Homo sapiens: one gene and its partner. The protein of the gene in region 1 purifies or fractionates together with the protein of each later gene. This does not show direct contact. Each region holds a gene or a part of one and is shown in the gene's direction. Other genes may lie near its edges.

Region 1 (8,440 bases):
ATGGTAATATAATCTCAGGATTTAGTACTTTTTTTAAAACTATTCAAATAAACTGCCTTTGTACAAATGTAATTGTTACTATTGCACATTATTATTAAATAGGCACTCATGAAAAGCATGGTATTGAATATCACTGGTAACAAGAGGATGCTGCTTTGTTGAGTCTCATTTACATACTAATTGCCACTGCTTTGTCTCTGTAGCCACAATAAGCCACCCTTTTGATGGTAGTTAGCTTGAATTATATTGCACCAGTGCCAAGTTTAAATTAGCTATGTTAAGTAAAAGAAGCAAAAAGTGGTAGAAGAAAGGTCATTTATTACACTGAAATTTATTTTAGAGGCTTGCCTAATGCTATAAAGGTAAAAATGACATTTTAAAAGTATTTCATCAGGAAAGTTTTATGGGTTTGAAATGTACTTTGGGTTTGTGGCTTTTAAAATATTAACATTTTTGAGATACCAGAATATTCTGTATGTAAAATGCTACAGTTAAATAGTAGATAAATGATTCCAAAACTTGAAACATTTTTAGGATAGAAAATCAAAGGATGTCCAAGTGGATTTTTTCTTTTATAAATATTTTTATGTGTATGAGAATTATATATTTTGTCTACCATTAGGTATGTTTTCCTGAATTAAAAATATAAAAAATGTATCCAGGACAAAATATCAAATGCTCAATATTCTGCTACCTGTTAGTTATTTAAGACCGAAAAATTGCCTTGTATCTTACTGACTTGAATTTCTCTGGGCTTTGCTTTTGAGTGATTAAATTCTCAATCAACTCAGTGAACTAATTCATCGTTCAGTGGTGCTTTCATTAAATTTGCCTTAAGGTATACAGCAAGCTTGTCTAACCCCCGGCCCAACACAAATTTGTAAACTTTCTTAAAACATTATGAGATTTTTTTGCAATTTTTAAAAAGCTCATCAGCTCTCGTTAGTGTTAGTATATTTTATGTGTGGCCCAAGATAATAATTCTTCCAGTTTGGCCCAGGGAAGCCAAAATATTGGATACCCCTGGTATATAGCTTTCAATGTTAGATTATCTGCTGCTTTAAAGACTAAACTTGATAATGTTTAATGGTAACATTTTATTTGTCTCCCAGAATTCTGCCATGTGAGAGGCAAATAGTTTCAAATGATAGGGATGGAAGGTACTTTGAGAGATTACCTGGATTCCAGCCTTCAGCCTACTAGTAATATCTGTTAAGTAAAAACCTAGTATCTTTCTTTATGAACCCTGGCCATTGGCTTTCTTTAATCTAGCTGGCCATATTGAAGAACAATATTATGAATAAAAGATATTTGATTTTTGTATTAATATGTACACTTTTAAAGTCTCTTATCCTTTGGAAAATATCTTTCGTTACCCTTTTTATGTTGAGAATTGTTAGGAATAAATTTTTCTGTTTTTTTTTTTTTTTTTTTTGAGACGGAGTCTCACTCTGTTGCCCAGGCTGGAGTGCAGTGGCACGATCACGGCTCACTGCAACCTCTGACCCCTGAGTTCAGGCGATTCTTCTGCCTCAGCCTCCCGAGTAGCTGGGACTACAGGCGTGTGCCACCACACCCAGCTAATTTTTGTATTTTTAGTAGAGACGGGGTTTTACCATATTGGCCAGGCTGGTCTCAAACTCCTGACCTCGTGATCCCCCCGCCTCAGCCTCCCAAAGTGCTGGGATTACAGGCATGAACCACCGTGCCCAGCCTAAATTTTTCTTTTACTTAACACAGTTAAGACTGAAAATTTTCCTAAAAATGTAGATTATGCCTCTAGTAGAAAGTATGGTGAGTTTTTAATAATGAATATAAGAAATCTGGATAATAAAAGCTAAGTATTAAACATTACAATATGGTATTCATTACTTCTAGAATATTTGACCATTAAAGTATTTTAAGTAAATTTTAATAAAAATGGTTTAGAATATAAGTAAGAAATCTGTTTACTTTTCACAGGTCATCAGTGCATGTGGTATGTGCATGCGCATGCATGTAACTGATTTTTATCAATTGAAGCAGAAAGGAATGTGTTGTTGACCTTTAAGGAATACCTGTGAAAAACACAAAATCCTTAAAGTACTAATGTACTAATGAATACTTAAGCTAATTGAAAAGTAAACTTCTAGCCAGGCATGGTGGCTTACGCCTGTAATCCCAGCACTTTGGGAGGCCGAAGCAGGCAGATCACTTGAGGTCAGGAGTTTGAGACCAGCCTGGCTAACATGGTGAAAACTTGTCTCTACTAGAAGTAAAAAAAAAAAAAAAAATCAGTCAGGTGTGGTGACAGACACCCGTAATCGCAGCTACTCGGGAGGCTGAGGCAGGAGAACTACTTGAAGCTGGGAGGCAGAGGTTGCAGTGAGCTGAGATTGCACCGCTGCACCCTAGCCTGGGGTACAGAGCAAGACTCCATCTAAAAAAAAAAAAGAAAAATAAACTTCTTTATAAATCACTTTGAATATTTCATGATTGTGTATCTCAAGTCTTTTCATTCATGGTAGAGAGTAGGTATTCCTAAATTGTTGGATGAAAACTCTATTGATAAAATGTTATTTTATTTTATTTTAATAGACGGTATCTCAAACTCGTAGGCTTAAGCGATCCTCCCACCTGGGCCTCCCAAAGTGCTGAGATTATAGGCATAGGCCATTGCAGCCAGCCAATATGTGATTTCTTAACTTTTCCTTTTGGTAACCAGGAACAGGTTTAAGATGTATGAGTGAATTATTGTGACTCATACATCTGTTAAGTGCTTGCTTGAATCATAGCCACCTTACTGTATTGACAATTAGTTACTGATGACTTAGTTCTTGTTAAGTAGAGACGTTCTGTCTGACACAGATATTTGCCAGTAATAGAAAATATGCTTGAGTTTCAGTTTCATAAATATGTATATTATAGCTTCACTCAAAATCTTAATGTGGATATGGACAAAGTTCTTTATTATACTAATGTTAATTCTGTAGTATAATTACAAAGAAAACCATTTACACTTACATTGTGTGTTACCATTTACAAAGTGCTTTGGTTTTTAATAACAACCCCTAAAAGTAGGCAGGGTAGGCTTTTTATAAGCCTTATTTGGCAAATGGGAAAAGTAAGACTCAGAGATCAAGTGACTTGCCCCAAGGTCACACAGAAGTAGAGTCAAAATTTGATCCTAGATTTTGTAATTGAGATTCCTTCTACTATATTGCATCGTTCTCTGTATATTTATCTTCCTTATCATCTCAATATTATATAACAATAATATAGGGGTCAGAAACCTAAGACCAAATTCCACACTTAAAAAAAAAAAAACCTCGTCTACATGCTTAGTGGTATGCTAACTCTATGATAATTCAGTAGATCGATTATGCTCCCCATTTCTTTTCAGTGGTATGCACCTTGAAAAACTACATATTACTGCCTGTCACAAGATATAACCCATCTTAACACTGCTAATCTTGGTCTTTTAATGTAGAAAACTTGGTTGTGTATTAATAGTAACACACAAGAAAAACACTTTTAAAAAGAATATTTGATGACACATTTAAAATTTTTATTGTGACAGTTGAATAAATGTTATTTTTATCCTTAAATGAGTTTATTATTATTTTATCCAAAAATGTACTACTGGTTCAGATTTGTCATTTTGGCTTTACAGCAGTTAGAAGAAAAAAGTGAAGATCAAGAAGACAAGGAATGTTTAAAACAAGCAATAACAGCTTTGCTTAATGTTCAGAGTGGTATGGAAAAAATATGTTCTAAAAGTCTTGCAAAACGAAGACTGAGGTGAATATTTTTACTTTTTAAAATATCCTTTTTTCCCTGAATATTGTGGTGTAAATTCAGGGATCCCAGTTCCCTCCTCAAGTAAACAATGAAGAAAATAGTTTTAGTGACAAGCCTGGTCTTTTAGAGGAAGTGACATCAAAGCCAAGAGAATTGTTATTGTTTGAAAAACCTTTCATATTTGTGCATTTTCCTTGCATACTCCCAGACAAGACCTCCTGAGAGTCAACTGGTAAGCTGAAGGAGAGACAGAGTAAAATGTATCGGGTAGATTTATGTTGGCATCGTTATTCTGTCAAAGTAAAATTATTAGTGTCCTTTATTTTAGGGATTATATAACTTGAGGCATTAATTCAGATAACATTGCTTCCACTTTCCTGATTATAATATGTGCTACATGTTTTTAGCTTTGGGTCTTGTCCATTTAAACTCTTCTAAATAATTTATTTTAATCTTTCAGATTACTTTTTTTTACTGTATTGGGCTACTTTTTATTAGTTGTCATTCTAAATATTTAGTAGCCAAGATAGAAATAATCATTTTGTAGTTACATTTAAGGAGAATTTTGTCAGCAATCATTGTGCTTTTTAGAACACTGAAAAAAATTTCTAGGTTGCTTTAATTTTCAAAATTGTGTAATTTTGTAATTCTAATCTATTTGGGGAATTAGTGAATACCTTCTCAGTGAGACTTGTAAAAATCTACTTTTACACTTTCCCTTACTTACATGAGCTCTAGGTTTTCTGTCATCTATGTACTAATAATGTCTTTTTCTTTATTCCAGTGAATCTGCATGTCGGTTTTATAGTCAGCAAATGAAGGGGAAACAACTAGCAATCAAGAAGATGAACGAGATTCAGAAGAATATTGATGGTTGGGAGGGAAAAGACATTGGACAGTGTTGTAATGAATTTATAATGGAAGGAACTCTTACACGTGTAGGAGCCAAACATGAGAGACACATATTTCTCTTTGATGGCTTAATGATTTGCTGTAAATCAAATCATGGGCAGCCAAGACTTCCTGGTGCTAGCAATGCAGAATATCGTCTTAAAGAAAAGTTTTTTATGCGAAAGGTACAAATTAATGATAAAGATGACACCAATGAATACAAGCATGCTTTTGAAATAATTTTAAAAGATGAAAATAGTGTTATATTTTCTGCCAAGTCAGCTGAAGAGAAAAACAATTGGATGGCAGCATTGATATCTTTACAGTACCGGAGTACACTGGAAAGGATGCTTGATGTAACAATGCTACAGGAAGAGAAAGAGGAGCAGATGAGGCTGCCTAGTGCTGATGTTTATAGATTTGCAGAGCCTGACTCTGAAGAGAATATTATATTTGAAGAGAACATGCAGCCCAAGGCTGGAATTCCAATTATCAAAGCAGGAACTGTTATTAAACTTATAGAGAGGCTTACGTACCATATGTACGCAGGTAAGAATTATGCAGTTGCCTGTCACTTTTGTTTTCCTGCTTCAAACTGATTTTCTTTCCTGCATGGGTTTATTGTGCCTAAAATAGAAAAGAAACTAACAACCAAAGACCTCTTTTCTTTGACTAAAAATACCCCACTTTATATTTCTTTGGAATGTTTTACTTTTTCTACTACACTTAAATACTTTTTTTTAACCTTACCATCAGTTATAGATGAGAAAATGAGGTCACTTGGCTAAATTTATCCAGTTAGAAAGTGACAGAAACAAGACTAAAGTTAGTAGTAAATCATCATTATTGGGATCTAAAAAGTTTTTTACTCCTTTATCTTTTTTTTCTTTCTTCTTTTTCCATTTCTGAGATTATAAATAAAAATTTTAATATAACAAAATTGTGCTGGTAGTACAAATATACACGGCATTGCTTTCTCTCAGTTTCCACTCCTAAACCTGATTATTTAATAATAAATGTTGCAATCCTGGAAGCCAAGGATTCCAGTTTTATTATAATTTTTCACCTAGAAATGTCTATAGTCAGTGTATTTATTTTACTGACCCAAAAATTTAAAAAATCATAGGAAATGTAAATAGGCTGCCTAGATTTTACATGAAAAACAAATAGGTTATTGTCATTTTTTTCCATATAAAGCTGTTTTTTGAGAGGTACAATTTTTCGGTAGTATGACCTGCCGATTTAGTTGTGCTTCACCAACCTTTTCTATGTTCTTTATGATCTAGACTACAACTATAAAAATGTTTTTTATTCAGTTACCCAAAATTTGTGATTGCAAAATACTTCTTTTCTGCTTAAGAGATTTTTAAGGCTATAAAAGTTCAAATTGCCCTTCTTGCCACATTTTCCTGGTTTTTAAGTCCCCTTAGAGGACTCATAGAATTTTTATAACATGAGCATTCTAAACTTTATCATTTCATCCTAAGTACTTTTGTTTGGGGTTCCTAGACTCATTTGGAGTAAAATTAATCTTTAGATTTTTCTCTGTGTTTGTAAGAAAGAAGTTTTAATTTTTTTTTTTTTTTTTTTTTTCCTGTAGAGCATTGTAAGAAGACTTACTACTAGTGTTTACTGTCACAAGTCAGTGATACTTGGGCAGGAAAACATTTTCAAATTACAAAATTTTTAATTGTTTCTGTAAGACTTGATTGAGTGATAGAAGTTTTCTCTAAATTGCTATATTTCACAAAGTTAATTTATGATTATTAATAAGCAGCTGAAGAATGGTTACAACTATTGTCTGGGGAACTGTCCCTTTTATTTATTTTTTTAAATGAGGACACTTTAAAGCAAAATTAACTGGAACAAGCTGATACTTGTTTTGTAGTCCTGAAAGTCTTCTTTCCTTAATGTGTACAATGTTAGGTAAAGTCCGTGGACATGGTACTTTTGTAATGATGTTTTATTAGTTATTTCTGTCTGATACTTCTTTTCTATATCAATTTTTAGCTTTGGTATAGAGTAATATTTTGAGTGCTTTTACTTATAATGAATATAAAACACTTAAATTTCAAGATTTATAGAACTTTGCCAAAGTTAAGTGTATTGAAAATTTAAGTTGATGAGATTATTTTACTTAAAAAAAATGTTTTTAAAAAATTCCTTCCAATAATTTTTTGAGAAATAAAAGGCCAGTGTTGTGGCTAAGTTTTTTGATATTTTTCTTTTCTGTCTTCTTTTGAAGCTTAACTGAATATTTTAATTTATGTCATAAATATATTACTGGTGAAACTGGAGTCTACAAGCAGCTTTCGTGAGTTGTGGTTTACAGTACACACACATTAGTGTTAACTGTTAGCTTATTTGGGCTATTCTGTAAGGTCTGTTACTGAAGTTATTACTGGCAACATAGAATGGTTTTTAATAGACCATCTGTGAACTTGTAAAACTGAAATGGACTTTTAAGGCCTCACTACAATGGTAACAGATCAAGTTACCATTTGTTTTTAAGAACTACTGGTCTGCTCTTCTCCTCTCATCTTTCTTCAGCCTCCCCAAAGAGAAAAGGGATTTGTGATTTGGTTAGTAGGTATGTTTATTGGAGAACATGCAGTACAGGTTGTGGCTTACACTGAAACAAAGCTAACATTTAACTTACACATTTTTATTTTATTATATAGAATTGTAATAAAAGACATTGGATATAATACATGAGAAAATTTAATGAATACTATAAGACACGACTTACAGACATCTTTTAGATTATTATAGTTTGGTTAGACATTGTCATAAAAACAGAAGAGAAACTGGTTTAACCTTACTTTATTCAGACTTCACTGTGGTGTCAGCCAACTTTATCCCTCAAATATTTTAACAGTAATGTACAAAATGGAGCTATAGATCTCTAATGCTAGAAGAGATGCCCAAGCCTTCACTTTGTAGACAAATCCCAAGGCCCCTGAAGATTATATGATTTCCCAGAAGTTCTATTACGAGTTAATTCCAGAACAAGTCAAGAATTAGGTTTCTTGACTCTAAATAGAGTATATTTTCTACCATGTTACATTGACTCATATAAGGTGATTGTTTTCATGAATAGAATATGTTGTAATTTTTTAATTATATGTGTTAATAATTAAGTAAAAGGATCTGGTACAGATGTGAGCTCAAAAAAAATAAATAAATTACTTCCTTGGTTTGAACTGCCAATAATATAAATGGCTTGTTCATTTCTGGGCAAACGTGCGTACTATGAAGATATTGTCAGTAATTTTTTTTTCTTGAAATAGGATATAGGTAAGCTCTGACTATAGATACACTTCCATTGGAATGCATAGATTTTTTATGTATAGATACTGGTCATTATTATTATTTTTATTTTTTTACAAAACCCAATTATTAGTCTATTGATGTAGTTTGCTCACTAAAGGGAAAGCTTTGTGGAAAGAAAAATTTAAATTTAGGTGAATTAGAAAGTGGTTAACTTGCTTAAAAGATTGCAACAGGGTCTTAGGTGGAATCTAATTTATAGCTTGTCTCTCAGATTCGGTGTTTCTGGATGTATCATAATTTGCTGACTATATCAGAACTTTGGGGTTTGTCCCAAAAACTAGGGGAAAAATTATCCAATTGGATGGATCATTCTAAATCTGGCAATGGTATGAAGAGACTATTTCCTTATCCTAAGTAAGAAAGCACAAAGCAATATGCACAAATAAAAAGTTGAGAGTAGGAATTTCACGTCTGTTACAGAGTTGTTGTAGGCAAC
Region 2 (7,000 bases), on another chromosome or scaffold:
TTGTTAGACTTCCTTGTTTTTGATGATGTTTGAGGAGTACTGGTCAGGTATTTTGTAGAATACATTTGCATTGGAATTCATCTAATGTTTTTTCTCATGATTAGACTGTGATTATAGGTTTTTGGTAGAAAGATCACAGAGGTAACGTGCCATTTTCATCTCATATCAAGGGTATATACTATCAGTATGATTTGTCACTGTGATACTCATCTTTATCACCTGGCTGAGATAGTGTTTATCAGATTTTTCCACTTTTCTCCACCTTTTTCATGCTGTGCTCTTAGAAGGAAGGAACTGTGTATAGCCTATACTTAAGGAGTAGAGAGTTATGCTTCCCCCTTTGATGGTAGAAATCTATATAAATTATTTGGATATTTTTCTCCGTGGGAGATTTGTCTCTTCTCCCCCATGTATTTATTTACTCAATCATATTTATTTTGTTCTGGACTCATGGATATATATATATTATATAAATATAAAATCTATCTATCTATCTAAATATTTTGGGTTATAATACAATGCTACTTTGTTACAGCTTGACTCCAGTGCCTCTTTGACATACTACCATCAATGTGAATTTTGTTTTTTTGGAAGCATTTCCTTACTTTCTGGTATTATGAGATGCTCTAGGTTCATCTGTATACATCTTGCCACAGTCCTAGAATCAGTCATTTCTCCAAGGAATCTGGATCATTTTGTTGGGGAATGGTGTTAGAAACCAAGATCTGGGTGCTAGGTGTGCTTGTTGCTACTGTGGTATCATTGCTTCTAGGTTCTCTCATGTGACAAAGCAAGAAATACATGTGTGTATATGAACATATCTGTACATATTTTTATGTAACAGTTTGTATCCATGTTTAACTATGAATTTACATTTTATCTGTAATGCTAATTCATTACCACAGGTATCATTCTAGCCTTCTCCCTTTGTTTATATGTAAACTTACTCCAACAGTGAGAAGAAACCTGGTTTGCACCATCTGCCATACATTTGCTTAATCATTCATTTCTATCATAGATGTATAGCAGCATTGGAATTGTTAACCTGTGCTCCCATGGGAAACAACTTTAGCATCAAGAGTACAGTGTTTATGTACTATTCCTTTTGCTTTTAGTCTCACAGCTTCTACTCATTTCTAGAGTTAGTCAGCTAAGCACCTTTCCTCCTATCCTTTTCAGTGAGATTGTAGCACACATTTATAATACAGTTAGATTTCTTTGTTACAATCTGCATTCCACCTTGGGATTCCTTGACCTTCTAAATGATTTGCTTACGTTTGCATACATTAAAGTTTACTCTTTGTCCTGTGAAGTTCTTTGGGTTTTGACAAATACTTAATTTGATGTAGCTATCCTTATAGGATCATAGTATCATACCGAATAATTTCAACACATTACAAATCCCCTGGGCTTCACTCATAACCTCTGTGAGCCCCTCTCCCAGAAAACCACGTATCTTTTTACTGTCTCTTTACTTTTGCCTTTTCCAGATGTTGTATAATTGGAATCATACAGCCTTGCCAGACTGGCTTCTTTCATTTAGCAATACACATTTAAGGTTCATCCATGTCTTCCTGAGGTTTAATAGCTCATTTCTTTCTATCATTATCAGATATATCATGGTTTGTTTATTCACCTATTGAAGGATATTTTGGTTGCTTCCAGTTTTTGGCAAGTATGAACGAAGCTGCTATGAATATTCACATGCAGGTTTTTGGGTAGACATAAGTTCTTATATCCGTTGGATAAATATCTAGAAGTGCGATTGCTGGATCCTGTGGTAAGATTATGGTTAGCTTTGTAAGAAATTGCCAAACTGTTTTCCGAAGTGGCTGTACTATTACATTCTCACCAGCAATGAATGTGAGTTCTTATTGCCCCACATCTTTGCTAGCATTTGATTTTGTCAGCTTTTTTGGATTTTACCCATTCTAGTAGGTGTGTAGTAATATGTCATTGTTACTTTAATTTACTATTTCCTAATGACATATGATGTTAACATCTTTTCACATACCCCTTTTCATCTGTACATCTTCTGTGGTGTGATGGCTGTTCAGATCATTTGCCCACTTTTTAATGGGGTTGTTTTCTTATTGTTGATTTTAAGAGTTCTTTATACATTTTGTATACAGGCACTTTATCAGATATGTGTTTTGCAAATATTTTCTCCCAGTTTGGTTTGTCTTTTTATTTTCCTAACAGTGTCTTTGTCAGAACAGATGTCTTTAATTTTAATAAGGCCAACTTACCAATTTCATGGATAGGCTTTTGTGTTATATTTGAAAACTCATTGCCAAGGCTACATAGATTTTATCCTGTGTTTTTCCTAGAAGTTTTATAGTTTTGCATTTTACATTTAGGTATGTGATCCATTTAGAGTTAATTTTTATGAAAGGTATAAGGTCTGTGTCTAGATTAATTTTTTTTTTGCATATGGATTCCTAGTTGTACCAGCACAAGTAAATGTGATTTTTAAATTAATAGATTATAAATTGCTTAGAATTGAAAATGTTTTTATTAAAATTTTTATTACATGTTCTGCAAAATTACTTACTGTAAACAGTTGAGAAATGACTTAGAAACCAATATATAATACAGCATGTACTGTGTGCTGAGATTTATTTCTAGACATTGTACATAATTCATTTTCCTCTTTTTTTTTTTTTTTTTTTTACTAACTCAGAGATGCTTCTTTGTGAAAATGGAATTGTTAGTATAGAGTAACATCTGTCAGTTCTTTTAGATCTTATCATAGGGAATAATAGTTTGATTTTTCACAAAAAGGATCTGGAATAAAGGATTTGCAGGGTGTATGTTGAGAAGAGGCAGTTGATGTATGCACCAGCTAGAAATCTGAGACTTAACTATGTGGTCTTGAATCTTTTCCCATGCTATTCTTCCTGCTACAAGTGACTTTTTTCAAGTACAGTTGACCCTTCAATAGTGCAGCGGTTAGACTCACTGACCCCTGCACAGTCAGAAATTTTTGTATAATTTTTGACTTCCCAAAAACTTAACTAGTAACCCTTCTGTTGACTGGAAGCCTTACTGATAACACAGTCTGTTAACACACATTTTGTATATTATATGTATATTACATTGTATTCTTACAATAAACTACAGAAAAGAAAATTTTATTAGGAAAACCATAAGGGAGAGAAAATCCAGTACTGTATTGTACTTATTGATATTGTAAGTTTTTGTTTGCTTACCAGATGACTCCTCTTTCTGAAAAGGTGGGGGAATGGAGGGGCAGGGCTGGGAACTGCAGCTGCAGACCTCAATCTATGGTACATACCAAGCAATTCAACTTTATCTCTCATAATGTCATGACTTTTCTCTGTTTCTTGGGAGCATTTCTGGCATCTCTAGTGGCACGTTTTCATTCAAGGTTTATGGTATTGTACCAAACAGGATGAAAAATACAAGAGAACACCAAGAAATCATTTTTTACTGTGATACACAATTTACCGGAGAGATGAACTGCTCACGCAGAGATGATTAACATCACACAGTGGACTAAGCGGTTACTCACAACACTTGAGCTCGCTGCAATAACAACAGGAGGTGGCTATGAAATTATTACAGTAGTACAGTATGTACTACAGTTAATTGTATGCAGTTAGGACTTAATACTGCATCTTTACATTTGTTTACATTTCTCTTGACCGCGAATGATACTATGTATCGTGTGTGTGTAAGTTTTGATAAATTTTAATTTTTTCTAATAAATTTTATGGTTACTACCATAAAATGATAAAGTAGACTAGTATTTATATACATATTATGCATTCATGACATACCTAACTTTTTTCTTAATGTTTTTGTTATCCTGGCTACGTGGTTTGTCTGTGTTTTTATTGTATTTATTTATTTAAAAAAATTTTTTGAGACAGAGTCTCACTGTCACCCAGGCTGGAGTGCAGTGGCGCCATCTTGGGCCTACTGCAGCCTCAACCACCCAGGCCCAGGTGATCCTCCCCATTCAGCCTTCTGAATAGCTGGAACCATAGGCATGTATCACCAGGCCTGGCTAATTTATTTTTATTTTTATTTTTTGCAGAGACAGGATCTCTCTGTGTTGTCCAGGATGGTTTTGAACTCCCAGGCACAAGCAGTTCTTCCAAGTTGGCCTCCCAAAGTGCTGGTATTACAGGCATGAGCCACCACACCCAGCCCGAGTGTTTTTAAATTGTCACAAATCTCCAAAAATTTTTCCAAATATATTTATTGAAAAAAATCTGTGTATAAGTGGACCCATGTAGTTCAAACCTGGCTTTTCAAAAGTCAAATGTACCTCTCTTTTGGTATACATTTTGTGTTATTGATATTGTGATGTACTATAGTTTACATATTTGTCCTCTCCAAAACTCATGTTGAAATTTCATCCTCAATGTGAGAGTGTTGAGAGGTGAGGCCTTTAAGAAGTGATTGATCCATTCATGAATTAATGGATTAAGGGGTTATCATGGGAGTGGGACTGGTGGCTTTGTAAGAAAAGGAAGAGAGACTTGAGTGAGCACATGAGCACACTCAGCCCCCTTGCCCTGTGATGCTCTCTGTTGTCCTGGGATTCTTGGAGAGTCCCCACCAGCAAGGAGGCTCTTAGCAGATGTAGCCCCTCGACCATGGACTTCTTAACCTCCATAACTGTAAGACATAAATTCCTTTTCTTTAGAATTACCCATTTCAGGTATTCTGTTATAAGCAACAGAAAACAGAGTAGGACAGGATTAGAAATATTTATAATGTTGCACTAAAGTTAGAACCAGTAGTCTTCAAGAAGCAGGTGGAGCAGCTCACATAATAATAGTACCTTTTGTGTGGCAGGTGTTACATACATTATCTTCTTTCACTGTTACAAGAGCCCTTTAAGGCATGCTTCTTTATCTCAGAATTACAGATAAAGGAATAGGCCCAGAAAGAAAAAGTGACTTGTGTCACACATGGGGAGAAAGGGACCGAATTGGGATGAGAACCCTGACCTGACTCCAAAATCCATGCCCTTTCCACTTGGTTGTGCTGCCCTTATTAAAGAAAAAGGGCAAGGATGGCCAGAGTGTCCTTAATTACATTCTTTTATTTAATACTGTGCTATATACTTGCTCAAATTACTACTGTGCCAAACAAGAATAGCGAAAAAGTTTGTGTATTTAAGCTCCACAAAGATTCTTCTAGCTTTGTTTTCTGTTGACTCATCTGTATCCTACTGACCAGAGGTATGTGGTGATGGAACACGGTTGTTTTAAAGAATGAGGATCTTTTAAAAAGAAACATTTGTGGGGAATTAGACAAAATAAAGCAAATAATGGTAGCATTAGCTAGTTATTTCTTTCTTTCCCTCATTGTATTTAAAGCTTCTCAAGGGCAGGGAACTGAGTCAGTTAAGTTCCCTGATGTATTTAAGGCCAACATATGACCATATGTGTCAGCCATATGACACACTCACAAAAGGCTTGCTGAATGAAATTAGCACTTATTATCATATTTTTACATAAATACTTAAAAGGGCATGAGTTTTCCTCACATAGGAAGTTGAGCATTACTACATTTCATTTGTTTATTCATTCATCTTTTATCGAGTGTTTGTTGAGTATCTGTTCTGTGCCAGACACCAGGAATACAAAGATGAGTAAGACAGGATCTCTGCCTTTTGTTGTCAGAAGGCTCAGAGAATGGAGGCAGCCAGACACCCGTTTTAGTACAGTGTGGAGCTGAAGGAAGTATATATTAAAAAACAAACAAACAATGGACTTTGGAATCAGACCTTATCTGCCTTGGTTTTCTTATCAAAGAGGTGGAAATGTCAAGTAGGTACTATTATCCATGGAGGATGTTAAATGAAAAGTGTGTATGCCTGTGTGTGTGTGTGTGTGTGTGTGTGTGTGTGTGTGTGTGTGTGTGTGTTTATCCCAGCACATAGCAGAAAGGAGAGCCTCACTGTGGCCGAGGGAGTCAGAAAAGTCTTTACTGGGGAAGGTGATGTTTGAGTCTCATAGAATGAATTTTTGAGGCAAAGCGAGACGCTCATCTCTCTCCAGGTAGAAAGATGAGCATGTTTGACATGTGCGGAATAGGTTGGCATGATGGGAGTGGTGGGAAATTCTGCACATTCCCACATTCAGAGCTTACGGGAGTATTAGAAAGAACTGAATGAGCAGTTATTTTTCATTTTTGTAAGTAACAATACAATAGAGTATTCATTACATTGTAGCAGAAGAGAATAAAGATACCAAACCTGTTTAAGAATTGCATAAATCTTCTCTTCTAGTCACATGGCCTTCTAAATGTAGCTCTTTATGTAGCAAACAAATTCATGTGTTCTTTTTCAGTCCTGTGATACTCAAGTGATTATATGGAATTTAAGAAAGAGAACTTGCATGTTTTTGGGTGAAATTGGAGGTCCTGTTTCAAACCATTCTTACATTTAGTAGCATAGCAACAAAAGAATGTAATAATCTATGAAGCCAGATCTAGTCCTGTTTAAGCCTGTCTAAAATTCTAAGCCATAGTTTCTGAACAGAACCTGAAACATACTATTTAGGAATGTACTAAAAAATAACTTGTTAAATGAATTATGTGCTTGATAAGAGATCAGAGTTCTATAATTGAAAAATTGTGTTTTTAATATAAGGGGAGAAGAAAAAGAGAAAGAAAAAATAGTGAGAAAAAAGATTGATAGAAGGAAGAGAAGTTTGTACTTAAATGAGGGAGAAACATTTTTCAAGTCCCTTATTGAGGGCTGTTGAATTATCTTCTGTTAACACCATTAGAATATTACTAAGTTATTCCTTATTATAGAAATACATGTATATTATTGAGATATTTGTTGGTTTAATGCAACAATAGAATGTTTCCAGTATCTGAAGTGGAAAAACAAAGCTGCAAATAAAAATATGTGTAAAATCTGTCTCTTTTGAGAAGACATTGATTACAGTTTATCTAATTTTCTGCAATAATTTTGACATTTAAAGTTGATGGTAATTTTAGACCTGAATGT

Evidence for each region.
Region 2: the proteins of SOS1 (region 1) and EPS8 purify together in Homo sapiens (affinity purification with western blotting; 5 studies listed by BioGRID and IntAct, with this or other methods). This does not show direct contact.

Annotation. Positions count from the first base shown.
Region 1 is NC_000002.12:39,019,350-39,027,789, reverse strand, and holds part of SOS1 (son of sevenless homolog 1), read left to right. Parts: intron 1-3,652; coding exon 3,653-3,780; intron 3,781-4,564; coding exon 4,565-5,220; intron 5,221-8,440.
Region 2 is NC_000012.12:15,779,389-15,786,388, reverse strand, and holds part of EPS8 (epidermal growth factor receptor kinase substrate 8), read left to right. Parts: intron 1-7,000. UniProt on the Homo sapiens protein: Signaling adapter that controls various cellular protrusions by regulating actin cytoskeleton dynamics and architecture. Depending on its association with other signal transducers, can regulate different processes.